Linked DNA regions of Homo sapiens. The protein of the gene in region 3 purifies or fractionates together with the protein of the main gene of each other region. This does not show direct contact. Each region holds a gene or a part of one and is shown on either strand. Other genes may lie near its edges.

What was found.
Region 1: the proteins of MPC1 (region 3) and RAB35 purify together in Homo sapiens (affinity purification with mass spectrometry; one large-scale study listed by BioGRID and IntAct). This does not show direct contact.
Region 2: the proteins of MPC1 (region 3) and ASS1 purify together in Homo sapiens (affinity purification with mass spectrometry; one large-scale study listed by BioGRID and IntAct). This does not show direct contact.

What each region holds. Positions count from the first base shown.
Region 1 is NC_000012.12:120,103,236-120,107,535, forward strand, and holds part of RAB35 (ras-related protein Rab-35), read right to left. Parts: intron 715-4,300; coding exon 591-714; intron 1-590. UniProt on the Homo sapiens protein: The small GTPases Rab are key regulators of intracellular membrane trafficking, from the formation of transport vesicles to their fusion with membranes.
Region 2 is NC_000009.12:130,475,179-130,479,478, forward strand, and holds part of ASS1 (argininosuccinate synthase), read left to right. Parts: intron 1-1,692; coding exon 1,693-1,783; intron 1,784-4,300. UniProt on the Homo sapiens protein: One of the enzymes of the urea cycle, the metabolic pathway transforming neurotoxic amonia produced by protein catabolism into inocuous urea in the liver of ureotelic animals.
Region 3 is NC_000006.12:166,374,927-166,379,940, forward strand, and holds part of MPC1 (mitochondrial pyruvate carrier 1), read right to left. Parts: intron 1-5,014. UniProt on the Homo sapiens protein: Mediates the uptake of pyruvate into mitochondria.

The DNA.
Region 1 (4,300 bases), on a different chromosome or scaffold from region 3:
GGAGCCCAGCTTCCCCCCGGCCTGCAGCTCAGCCACAAAGGTGGGCAACCGGTGGGCGGCCGGATTTCCCAGGAACAGCTTTAAGGGTAGGGAAGGGCCTGCTGACATGCACCGTGTTCGTCTCTAGACAGCGTCACTTCCAAGGCATCAGTGCAGGTGACGGGAGCCTGCACAGGCCAACTCCAGCTGCCATAACTGACACCTACCAAGAGGAATTGTCAGCGACTAAGTCCTGGGTGGGCAAGGCACTTCGCAACCCCCTAGCGAGGCAAATGCTATTCTGCTCTCTCTGTAAGGTGACGGCACAGTGGGCCGGAGGGTCGGCTGACTCTCCAAGGAGATAGAACATGGCCACTGTCCGGCCAGACTCCAGCCAGGGTGCTCAGCGACTCCCCCACAGCACCCCCCTCACATCTTCAGGACCAGGAAGGGTGCAGCCAAACGCCACCTACTACAGCCAACAACAGGCTCACTTCCCGACAGCCTCAGGGACCCACCAGTGACATTTCCACCATGACCAGGCACCGGTCGCTCAACTGTGTCCACAGGTCAGTGGCGCGGGTTGGGTGGGAGTGGGCGTGTGGACTCACGTGGAGGTGATGGTGCGGAAGCGCTCCTGCCCCGCTGTGTCCCAGATCTGCAGCTTCACCTTCTCCCCGTTGATCTCCACGGTCCGGATCTTGAAATCCACTCCGATCGTGGTGATGTAGCTGCCTGCACACACAGGGCAGTTAACGAGGCCCAGCGCGGTATCTTCCCAGGCCCTGAGCCCCACGCTGCACACAACACACCCCCAGGCTCCCCCACCCTCCCGACTCATTACATGTGCCTGGTACATTCTAGGTCCCAGGGACACAGCCCTGAACATCCTTGTTCACAAGGCCCCTCCACACACAAGTGAAGGAGGGAGACAGGATGCAAGCAAACAAACAAAGAGGACAATTTCCGAGAGTGAAAAGTGACACATAGGAAATAACACGGGATGGGACTGGCGGGAGTGGGACAGGCTCCTTTAGAGTGGCTAGATGGGGACACACCAGCTATGTCTGAGAATGGTAGACCTACGGGCACTCTGGGTTTTTCTTTTCTATTCAAGTCAAAAAAAATTTAGGGCCCTCAAAATTCACTTCCAAACACACAAATAGGTCATGAGCTGCAGTCTGAAAGCCACTGCTCCAGGCAGGGGAGACAGTAGCAAAAACAGCCGTGAGTGGGGGCGGTCACATGAGGTCAAGCCTGCCGCCCAAGGCAGGCAGAAAGTGGCGAGGCCAGATCTTGGACCTGTGTGCCACTTCCAAGAACGTGGACTTTCTCTCGTGTGTGCTGGGGAGGCACCAAAGGGTTTTAATCAGTGGCATGAGCTGCTGCATTTTAAATAGCTCTCTTGCAGCATCTGTGGGAAAAATGGATTTTTTTTGGTGGGGGGGGGACAGCGTCTCATTCTGTCGCCCAGGCTGGAGTGAAGTGGGATTGCACCCTTGACCTTCCCCCAGGGTCTGATAATCCTCCCACCTCAGCCTCCTGAGTAGCTGGGACTACAGGCATGCGCCACCACGCCCGGCTAATTTTTGTGTTTTTAGTACAGACGGGGTTTCACCATGTTGCCCAGGCTGGTCTCAAACTCCTGACCTCAAGTGATCCGCCTGCCTCAGCCTCCCAAAGTGCTGGGATTACAGGCACAAGCCACCGTGCCCGGCCTGAAAGATGGATTTGAGGAGAATTTCTAGCCGGTGTAATTGCCCAGTCCAGCTTTCCAAAGCCTGACACTAGGAAGAGCACAGCTTCTCACTCCATTTGGGGCTTATGCTATAACAGTGCAGGAGACACCACACACACACACAATTATGTGAAATGTGGCAAGGGCGTAGGAAAGGTCAAATTCCAAGGTGGGGTGGGGAACAAGGCAGGCTTCAGGGAGGACGTCACATCTGGGCCTAGCTTGAAAGAACAGGTAAGACTTCAAAGGTTGAGATTAGGTAGGGGAACGACATCCCACTCAAAAGCAAATAGCTGAGGATGATACGCAACCAGAACACATTCAGAAAAGCGGCCAGCACCCGGGGTCTTCCAGCCAGGGGAACGCCAAGGAGTGCAGCCCACTGCCTAGCACAGTTAGGCTCCCCAGAAACAGCTGGTGGCTAACGAACCAAGCAAGCCAAAGAACAAAAGAATGACCAGGGGGTAGGAGGAAGCCAGAAAGGCGAACTGAAAACAGACTACGAGCGCAGTGGTTCTCAGCCGGGATGACTGTCCCTCCAAAGGACACTCAGCAATGTCTGGAGGCATTTTTGGTTGTCACAGCAGGGGGAGGGAAGTGTTGCTGGCATTTAGTGGGTGGAGGCCAGGGATGCTGCTCAACATCCTTCGACACGCAGGATAGCCCCACAACAAAAATCACAGGGCCCAGACCCGGCGCGCTGGCTCACGCCTGTAATCCCAGCACTCTGGGAGGCCGAGGTGGGCAGATCACGAGGTCAGGAGATCAAGACCATCCTGGCTCACATGGTAAAACCCCGTCTCTACTAAAAATACAAAAAATTAGCCAGGCGTGGTGGCGGGCACCTGTGGTCCCAGCTACTTGGGAGGCAGGAGAATGGCGTGAACCCGGGAGGCGGAGCTTGCAGTGAGCCAAGATCACACCACCGCACTCCAGCCTGGGCGACAGAGCGAGACTCCGTCTCAAAAAAAAAAAAAAAAAAAAAAAATCACAGGGCCCAAAGGGTCAACAGTGTCCAAGTGAAGAAATCTTACTGTAAACTCTGTGCAGGTGAGAGGGGCCACTGAGGTTTTTAAACAGAGAAAAGACCCTACCAGACACACACATGAGCGGTTCAGGGTGGGTAGGGGTTGCCGTAATGCTTCCAGGTAGAACCAACAGTAAACTGAGATGCTGGTCGTAGAAATGGAAAGGTGGGAAGAGATTGCAACAACAAGCCCTCCAAGCACTGAACACAGATTGGGATGGGGAGGGAGGAGGCCATTAAGGAGGAAGAGGAACATTTTTTAGCATAATTAGAGGCTGTTAATCAGCTATCATTCTTAAACAGAAGGTTAACAGCCAGTCGCAACAAATAGCTGGTATTTATTGAGCAATTACTTAGTCCCAGGCACTGCAACCTGCACTATCTCAGGTCATCCTATAACAACCCCATGGGGAAAGGACCATTATGATTTCTACTTTACACATGAACTGAGGCTTCTATTTTACAAATGAACTGGCTAAGGTCACACAGAGCAGCCATCTCTTTCTAACACCACACCACTAGTGAGATTGCAGGGACAGTGTCAAGGAAACAAAGGGGGCAAAACCCACTTCTCCACCAAGAGACATCAGCTATGGAATCACTTTCTTTTTCTTTTTTTTTTTTTTTTTTTGAGACGGAGTCTCACTCTGTCGCCAGGCTGGAGTGCTGTGACAAGATCTCGGCTCACTGCAACCAACTCCCTGGTTCAAGCGATTCTCCTGCCTCAGCCTCCTGAGTAGCCGGGATTACAGGCACATGCCGCCACACCCAACTCATTTTTTTATTTTTAGTAGAGACAGAGTTTCACCATATTGGCCAGGATGGTCTCAATCTCCTGACCTCATGATCCACGCGCCTCGGCCTCCCAAAGTGCTAGGATTACAGGCGTGAGCCACCGCGCCTGGCCAACGGAATCACTTTCTAAAGGCAGCCCAGCCATGTCAGAGGGAATTCTCCACAAGATAATCAGAGATGTCAACCCCACCCAAAGCATCTGTAATGAACCTGATTTTTTTTGTTGTTTTTTGAGATGGAGTCTCGCTCTGTCGTTCAGGCTGGAGTGCAGTGGTGCCATCTCAGCTCACTGCAACCTCCCTCTCCCGGATTCAAGCAACTCTCCTGCCTCAGCCTCCCCAGTCGCTAGGATTATAGGTATGCACCACCACGCCCAGCTAATTTTTGTATTTTTAGTAGAGACGGGGTTTCACCATGTTGGTCAGGCTGGTCTCGAACTCCTGACCTCATGATCCACCCGCCTCGGCCTCCCAAAGTGCTGGGATTACAGGTGTGAGCCACCGCACCCGGCTGAACCTGATGTATTTAACAAACAAAAATGTGTTCCATCTTACCAGTGATTAGGGAAATACAAATGTAAACAAGTTAGCCCTTTTTGCCTATCAGCTCAGCAAGAATGAAGACAGCTACTAAGATCCAGCACTGACCAGGGTTGACAAGGGGCACTTTCCACCCTTCAGTGGGACTGGATTAAATGACTCCAGCTTCTTTGAAAAGCAGGTTGGCAGTACCTATGAAAATTCTCAGTGCATACACCCTGT
Region 2 (4,300 bases), on a different chromosome or scaffold from region 3:
TGAGCTTCCAAGGCACTTATGTAGCCCCATCCCATGCAGAATGAGGAGGAGGCTGGGCCGAGCATGTACCCCCAGAGTGAATTTCAGCTGCCCTTTCCACCTGCAGAGCATGTTCCCGTTTGTACCAGGCCTTCCCTGACATTTTCCTGTGTGTTTTCATGTCCAATTAAAAAATATATATATACTACTTAAATTGTAAGATGGCCAAGGGCAGGTATCATTTTCCCCATTTTACAGATGAGGAAACTGAGGCTGGAGGAAGTGAAGCTTCCCCAAGGCCCCCCAGCCTGAGCTCTTGATCCTGGCACGGGGTAATGCCCATCACTCTAAAATACAATGTGTATTTGGCGAGGACCTCGCGGGGCTCCTGTCCTGAGTGCCAGGGAACAAGTCCCACGTGGTCTCTGCCTGCACAGAACTCACAGTTGTAGCTCCAGTCCCTCCCGCTCAGCCTCAATTTCTTCATCTGTTGATGGGGTAAGAGCGCTTGACCTTCTTACCAAATGGGGCTGCTGAGAACTCAGACTGCAGATGGGAAGCAATACGTGAATGTGTGCAAGGTGTTTTTTTTTTTTTTTTTTTTGGTGGGGGGGTGGGGGACGGAATCTTGCTCTCTCACCCAGGCTGGAGTGCAGTGGTGCAATCTCGGCTCACTGCAACCTCCGCCTCCCAGGTTCAAGCAATTCTCCTGCCTCAGCCTCCTGAGTAGCTGGGACTACAGGCGCATGCCGCCATACCCGGATAATTTCTTTTGTATTTTAGTAGAGATGGGGTTTCACCGCGTTGCCCAGGCTGGTGTCGAACTCCTGAGCTCAGGCAGTCCACCCACCTCAGCCTCCCAAAGTGCTAGGATTACAGGTGTGAGCCACTGTGCCCAGCCGTCTGCAAGGTTTTTAAAGCAAAGATGAGACAGCAGTTCCTGGATGTCAGCAGGTGAACAAGGACCCCAGGCACAGGATGCCCACAGGAGGGACCTGAGCAGTCAGGCCCAAGAGGCCCCAGTCCCCACAGTGGCAAATGTCCAAGCCACGGCCTGGGGGAGCTGGGGCCTCCGAAGGTGGGAGGGAATTTCGAGAGTTTCAGGCAACACGCAGCCCCTCCACCACTGCATCAGACGAGAGGCCCATTTTCCAACACGCCCAAGAAAAAATATACATAAAGGTTGATGTGTTTTCAAATGGGTTTTTGCTTTGCTCTTCTCTTTTCTCCCTGTGAGTATTAACCTTGGGGACCCTGGGGACGGCTCGGCTTGCCAGAGCACCTGCTGGGGTCACAGGCAGTCATTAGCTTTGCGGTCAGTGCAGAATAAACCCCAATCCCGAGCCGGCGAGAGCGTGCGTGCCGCTCCTGGGAAGCCCTCGGAACGCCGCCTTGCTCCTCCAAAGTCACACTTTTTCCTGCCTGACTTGTTCCTCTCCAGCTATTCTACCTCCAGCTGTGGGGGCGTCGAAGAAAAAGATGAGATCAAGTTGAGGGGAAAAATTGTCTGATTTCTCCAGCCCTTTGTTTCCCAGGCCTCTGGCAAGCGAGGCTGGTGCTAGGCTGAGGGCTGGGGACCGGGGGATCTGCCGGACCCCACCAGCTGGTGGGGAAATGGACAGAGGAGAGGGGTGCAGATCCCCGCGGGAGGTGGGCTGTAGGGTGTCCAGGGACTGGTATGTCATCTGCCCACCACTTTCTGTCTTTTTTCAGAACCAAGCGCCTCCAGGTCTCTACACGAAGACCCAGGACCCAGCCAAAGCCCCCAACACCCCTGACATTCTCGAGATCGAGTTCAAAAAAGGTATGTGCCCACCTGTTGGGACTCGAAGGGGGTTGACTTTTGGGGCCCTGGCTCCTTTCCCCTCCCTGCCTGGGAACCTAGGCCCTCTTTACCCCCGCCCTGCATTCCTGGAAGCTAGAGTTCAGGCAGGGGCTTCAAGGTAACGCACAGCCCACCTCCCTGGACAGTACAACCCATGGACCATGGATGCCTCTAGGCTTGGGAGGAACATGCCCTCGGCTACCCATCACTCGGGTTCATGGGCACCAGGTCTGGAATGAGAGCGCTCTAGTCCCTGAACAGCCACTCAACTTTCCTGGGCCTCAGTTTCCTCAGCTGTATCTGAGGATGAAAGAGTGCCTGCTGTTTTCCTGGGGTAGAATGAGGCCTGCAAGGGAGCGTCCAGCCCTGGGCCCTGACCCCGGAAGGTGCTCAGTAAACGGTGAGTGTTGGCGAGCTGGCCTCATGGACCCCTGGGACCCCACATGGAAAGCCTTCGCCAGTCTTCATTGAGCCGCTCTGGGCCTCACCCTGCTGACCCCACGTTCAAAGCTGCGGCCACTCTTGCTCCCCTCGGCAGTGGAGGCTGTCCTGATCGCTCCCTCCTTCTCACTGCTGTCAACAAGAAGCGTTTGCTGACCTGGCCTGAGTGCCTGGGTGCCTGAGCTTGGGAGAGGGCATCTCTTGGCCTGGAGGAAGGATGGAGAAGCGAGGCATGCCCGCCTGGGCTCAGAGGGAGGGCTCAGAGGGCGGGCTCAGAGGGCCTGAAGGGGTACCTTTTCAGGAGGCTGGAGTGATCAGGGAGGCTTCCTGGAGGAGGTGGTGCTGGGCACAGGGGCACCCAAGGACCAGGCGGGGGGCTGGCCCATTCGTCCACAAAGTGGCTGCCCACACTGGAGCTGGGATGAGAGGGAGAGAGGCTCGTGGAGAGGCCTGGCCCGGCTCTGGCGCTCGGCTCTTACCCCGGCTACCACAGAAAGGAGGATAGGGTGGGGAAGCCTCAGGCCGGTGGGGAGGCAGAGCTGCAGATCCCCCTCTCCCCCTTGCTGGTGTGACCTTGACAGCCAGCTTCACCATGCTGGGCCTTGGGTGCACTCATCAAAAAACGGACCACAGGCATGATGCTCACAGGTGCCCGGCATGGTATGTGGAATGGGGTGTCGGAGGCTAAGTGCTTTAATAATCTGCCTCTTCTGGGCCTTTCCCAAGAGCTTGGCCAAGCCAGCGACTGTCTTCCTTGCTCCCCTTCATCTGTCCCAACCTACTGGGGGGCCAAAGAGGACCCCAAAGGCAGCCGGGCCCCCAGGCCTGTTTGCAGGCACAGAGCCTCCCTTTAGGATCATCTCTGAGAAGATGGTGGGAGTGGCCCCAGCAGCACCTCCTGGCTCCCTGCACAGGGCTCCCAGGAGCCTGGAGAGCCGTGAGGGTGGGAGGCGGGTGGCAGGCTGCGGAGGGTCCTGGGCACCAGGCTCTGGCAGCCCTGCCCGAGGACCAGGGCAGCTCCGCAGGCTGAGCTGGAGAAGAAACGTGACCTATTGTCATGATTTGGGGACTGTCTGGAAGAAGAAAAAAAGACCGGAGGAACCCTCCCCTGGCTAGTGCCCATTCACTCTCTAGTTAATTTATTTGAAGTTTTAATCTAATTATTAACTATTTTAAAGGCTAAGAGGCTTTCTCCAGCAGCAGCACCAACAATGTCACCTCTTCTCCCGGGCAGGCCCCATCTAAGGCCCCAGCGAAGGCCGATAATAGGACCGGGGAGGGAGAGAAAGGGAGAGAGGAGAGGCGGGGGGTGGTGAGAGGGGCTTAAGGTTCATTATTGGGCAGACTTACATTTAATAGCAATTTACAACCAAGTTATAAAACCCCTGGAAATGGGGGTTAAGAATGGCGAGGCTGACAGCGCCTTGAGTGAAGCCCCTCCAAGCGGCGCCTGGCTAATAAAGCCTCGAAAGCCGCTATTGAGGCCTGATTGGCACCCGATGGCTCGCTCCATGGTAATGAGCCGGGCAGATGGGTGGGGGATTAGCCGCCAACTTTGAACAGCTTTTCTTTGTCACTGTTTCAGCTCTCTTGTTAGCCCCAATACATTTATTGCTCATTTCACACCGCTCGAGAAAGTGCCCCTTGCTATTCAAAGTCAACCCCGAACCCACCCACTGCCCCCACCCAACCCCTTCCCTCCTGCCACCCCGGACCCAGCTCCTCGGATTCAGGGACGCTGCCGACACCTCGCCTGCTGGAGCGGGCACCGTGTCACCCCCATCAATCAGATGGCTGCGTGTGGGTCTGGGGTACAGGGTCGGGGCGCGGGGTCCGCCTGACAGACGTGGCAGGGGGCTGTGTGTGTGTGTGTGTGTGTGTGAGCGAGTATGTGTGTGCTTGAGCCCAGCCACACCTCGGCCAGGCGGCCCCCGGGTGACTGGTGGGACAGAAGGTGCTCCCGGCGTAAGACAATGGTGGAGCGTGAAATTCAATTAGTTCAGGGCCTGGTTCCAATTTCACAGCCCCTAAATGCAAAAGGGGCAAAGAGAATGG
Region 3 (5,014 bases):
TTTACCGCCGTCTCCATTTAAACTCCAAAATCTGTGTGTTGATATCCACAGAATAACGTGCTGGGATTTTAACTTTCACCTATTCACTTAAAAAAAGTACTTTATGGCTTCTCTTTGGCATATTCAAAGTACCAGCATCACTAGTCTTGTACTTTGGGGCCATCATTAAATAAAATGTGGGTTACTTGAACAGAAGCACTGCAATACCACAACAATGGCTAAGTGATTAGGTGGGATGACTAAGTGACTAACAAGTAGGTAGCATCTACAGCATACAGATGGTGGATGAAGGGATGGTTCATGTTTCAACAAGGACAAAGTAGGATGGCATGAGATTTCATCATGCTACTCAGAATGACACAAAATTTACAATTTATGAATTGGTTGTTCCTGAAACTTTCCACTTAATATTTTCAGACCTTAGTTGGCCACAAGTAACCGAAACTGCAGAAAGCAAACTGTGGATAAGGGGGGTGGAGAGCTACTGTATTTCCCTTCTTCTGCTTATTTTCATTCTAATTTGCTTTTTTTTTTTTTTTTTAGTTTTGTAAGGTGGAGGCTTAGATGATTGATTTTAGAACCTTCTCGTTTTCTAATACATGCATCCAATGCTATAAAAATTCTCTCTAATCACTGCTTTAACTGTATCCCACAAATTCTGATAAGTTGTGTTTGCACTTTTATTTAGTTCAAAATATTAAAAAATTTATCTTGAGATTTCTTCTTTGACCCAGAGTTATTTAGAAGTGTGCTGTTTAATCTCCAAGTATCGGGGATTTTCCAGCTTTCGTTAGTGACTTCTAGTTGAATTCCAAAGCACACACCATATGATTTCTAGTCTTTTAAATTGGTTAAGGTGTGTTCTATTCGCCAGAATATAATTTATCTTGGTGAGTGTTCCATGTGAGCTTGAGAAGAATGTGTATTCTGCTGCTGTTACATGTAGCAGTCTACTGATGTTCATCATATCCAGTTGATTCATTGTTTTGTTGAGTTAAATTATGTCCGTACTGATTTTCTACCTGCCGGGTCTATTTATGATGGAGGGGTGAAATCTCCAATTATATTAGTGGATTCATCTATTTTTTCTTGCAATTCTATCAGTTTTTGCCTCATGTGTTTTAATGCTGTAATGGTGCATACACATTAAAGATTGTTACCTGTATTAAGGCTCTCCAGAGAGACAGAACTAATAGAAGATGTATAGCTATAGATACATATACACATACGTGTGTGTGTGTGTGTGTGTGTGTATATATATATAATTTTTAATGGAAATTGGCTTATGCTGTTATAGAAGTAATAAGTTTCACAAGCTGGAGAATCAGTAAAGCCAGTGCTGTAACTCAGTCTGAGTCCAAAGGCCTGAGAACTAGGGGAGCCAATGGTGTAACTCAGTCCGAGGCTAAAGGCCCTGAGAACCTGAAGGACCACTGGTGTAAATCCTAGAGTCCAAAAGCCCAAGAACCTAGTGTTCTGATGTCTGATGGCAGAAGAAAATGGAAGTCCAAGCTCCAGAAGAGAGAGCAAATTGTCTCTTCTCTACCTTTCTGTTCTACTGGGGCCCTCAACAGATTTAATGATGCCCACTTACACGGGTGAGGGCACATCTTCTTTACTCAGTCTACTGATTCAAATGCCAATCTCTTCCAGAAATACCTGCATAAACATGCCCAGAAATAATGTTTTACCATCTATCTGGGTATCTGTTAACCCAGTAAAGTTGACACCTAAAATTAACCATTGCATTTGTCTTTTTGGAGCATTGATCCCATTATCATATGTAATGTCTCTCTTTATCCCTGGTAATTTTCCTTGCTCTGAAGTATGCTCCATCTATAGCTACCAACGCCTTTTCTTGATTAATGTTAACATGGTACACCTATCTCTACCTATTTACTTTTAATCTATATGTGTATTTACACTTAAAGTGGGTTTCTTGTAGACAATGTATATTGAGTCTTATTTTTTGATCCACTTGTACAATATGTCTTTTAATTGGTACTTTTAGTCTACTGATATTCAAAGTGATTATTGATATAGTTGTATTACTATTTACCATATTTGTTACTGTTTTCTATTTGTTGTCCTTGTTCTTTGTTCTTTTTTTGCCTTCCATTCTTTTTCTGCCTTTTATGGTTTTAAATGAGCATTTTATATGATTCCATTTTCCCTCCTTTCCTGGCATATCAGTTATAATTACTATTATTATTATTTATTCTTTTTTTTTTTTTTTGAGACAGTCTCGCTCTGTTAGCCAGGCTGGAGTGCAGTGGCAGACCCATGCCGGCACCCAGGCCACCCTGGAAGCTGGTGCTGCTGCTGCCCACTCGGGAGACAATCAAGGAGCTGATGTGGGCACTGGGCCTGCTCATGTAGGAGGAGCTGCTGAAGGCCCAGGGGCCAGAGTTGAACACCTTGTAGGGCTGCTGGGTCACCCTGATGGACATGGTGGAGGCAGAAGTGGAGGCAGGCAGGCTGAACCAGGAGGAGATTTGAAAAGGAGCAGAGGAGCTGCTTTTAGGTCAGTCTAATTTTTCCAAAATTATGGTAATGTTAGCTTTCTCTGAAAGTACTGAGAGCAATTTAAGTAATTTATAACTTACTTATGTAGTACTAAAAGGATCCAACTGACAGCCTAGCATAGTATATTTCTAACATTATTCAAAGTAAAATGGGATAAAATTTTGAGATATTTTAGATCATAATTCTACAGTTTGCTGAAATTTATTCTTACCAAATTTTGTCTAGTTTTCTAGTTCAAATTAAAATGAGGGAGGGTTTTGACAATTAGAATTTGTGATATTCAGCTATATTTAGCGAGCCAAAAGTCAGCTGAATGACAGTAAAGATCTTTGTGACTGGACTATCCAGATATTAAGAGATTCTTATGGCCAGTCCTGCTTCAACATTTCCAGCTTCATTCAATTTCTGAAAGTCAATTATATGGCAGGGAAGTGCTCAAAGAGTCCAAGGACCGGGTGTGAAAAGCAGTTTGGCAGAGAAAAGGGAGACATATGCAGGAAAACATGGAGCACAAAAATATCTAAAACCTTCTTTTCAAAACCATTTCTATGCATTACTATTTTCCTTTAAATCCCAAGTTGACATTTCTGTTTTAGCTTCACAAGTTTGGTATCCAGAGGTTCTGAAGTTATCTGTTTGGTTCAGATATCAGCCTTCTCATGTGGCAAATGAAGCACTGGAATTTCTAAGGCCTGTTCCAACTCTAATATTCCACAAGTTTGGGAAAGATTCACTTTTATTTTACTGCAACTTCTCACCTGGGTAGTAAGTATAAATTCTGAAAGCTTTCCTGGAGACTCAGAAGTTAAAATTAATTTAGAATACCTGATCAACTTGAGAATATTCAATGCAAACATCCCACTAACTTCAGATTCATAAGCATACTAAGTGATTAACTGATTTTAAAGCACTCTATGATCTAGGTTCTTCTTAAGAAAACATCCTCTGCACACATATACAAATACATGTGTGTGTGTGTGTGTGTGTGTGTATCCATTCACCTTTACTGTAATATACAAACTTGAGAAGAGGAATAAGTCGCTAGAATAAAGCTGCACAGACCTTGATTGAGTTAATCATTAAAATATATGTCCTACCTCAAAACTGTTTTGCTTATTCTAATTTATTCTTCTTAACCAGAAATCCAGGAAGGAGAATGAGAGAAGAGGAAAAGCAAAGAAGAGCTCTCTTTTTCTATTCTGTCAATAAGAAAGGTGAGGGAATAGTTTCTTAAGAAAAAGGTATTGGAATAGAGACCCAGGAAGTTCTTGATTCAAGATCCTAATCAAGGTAAGTAACAAGAGATGGAAGAAAGTACCAAAAAGAGAGTACCAGAAATCCTGGGGATTAAACATGCAATATTAGTTACAATAAAAAATAAATTGAACACTTACTTTTGTCAAGCGCTATACTATGTCATTAAACAGCTACGAAAGCACAAAAGCTAAACAATTTGCCCAAGCTCACAAAGCTGGAAAGCAAGAGCTGGGCTTCAAATCCATCATTCAAACTCATCACCTAGGTTTAACGGTATTATTATCACAATTAACAATTGTCAATAATTATTTAATATTATTTAATACTGAGATCCTATTTAAGTGTTCCGTTATCCCAGTAATGCCTTTTCCAGCTGTTTTTTCACACCAGGCCCAATCAAAGTCCACACATTATCTTTGGTTCTTAGGTGTCCTAAGTGAGAGCCTGTTTCATAACCTCTTTCAGTGAAATAAAAAAAAATCATTTAAAATACATGTGGATGGGCTGGGCACAGTGGTTCATGCCTATAATCCCAGAGCTTTGGGAGGCCAAGATGGGAGGACTGCTTGACACTGGGAGTTCAAGGACAGCCTGGGCAACATAGCAAGGTCCCATCTCTAAGAAAAAACAAAAAACTAGCCAGGTATGATTGTGCACACCTGTAGCCCTAGCTACTCGGGAGGCTGAGGCAGGAGGCTCACTCAAGCCCAGGAGTGGGAGGTTACAGTGAGCTATGATCATGCCATTGCACTCCAGCCTGGGTGACAGAGTAATACCCTGTCTCTAAATAAATAAATACACTTGGAAATTCAGTTTAGTAAGAATGTTCAACTTGATTCATAAAACATGATTGAAATAAATTTATAATCTGTGTAAAATATGATTTTAAATTTATGCTGAAAAACTCAATTATGTTATTAATTTTTAAAATTCTAGAACAGCTTTAGTTGAGAAAACCTCTAGACCCCTTCAGTAGGCTACAAAAAGAATGCAGAGGATGCAAAGTGTGTACAACAGGCAACTGATGAAGTAAAAAGAGGAAGGGATGGAACCTTGTTTCTGATTAGAAGAAAAGAGATACAATGACGTTTTCTGCTTTATATTTTATTCTCCTTTGCTAAAGAAAAGCCGGGCTGTAAGCGTAAAGCTTGGAAGAACAAATAGGAAGTACTTTCCTCTGATATGTTCTAGGAAGAAATGTTTCTCTTTCTAGGGCAGGAAACACTAAAAT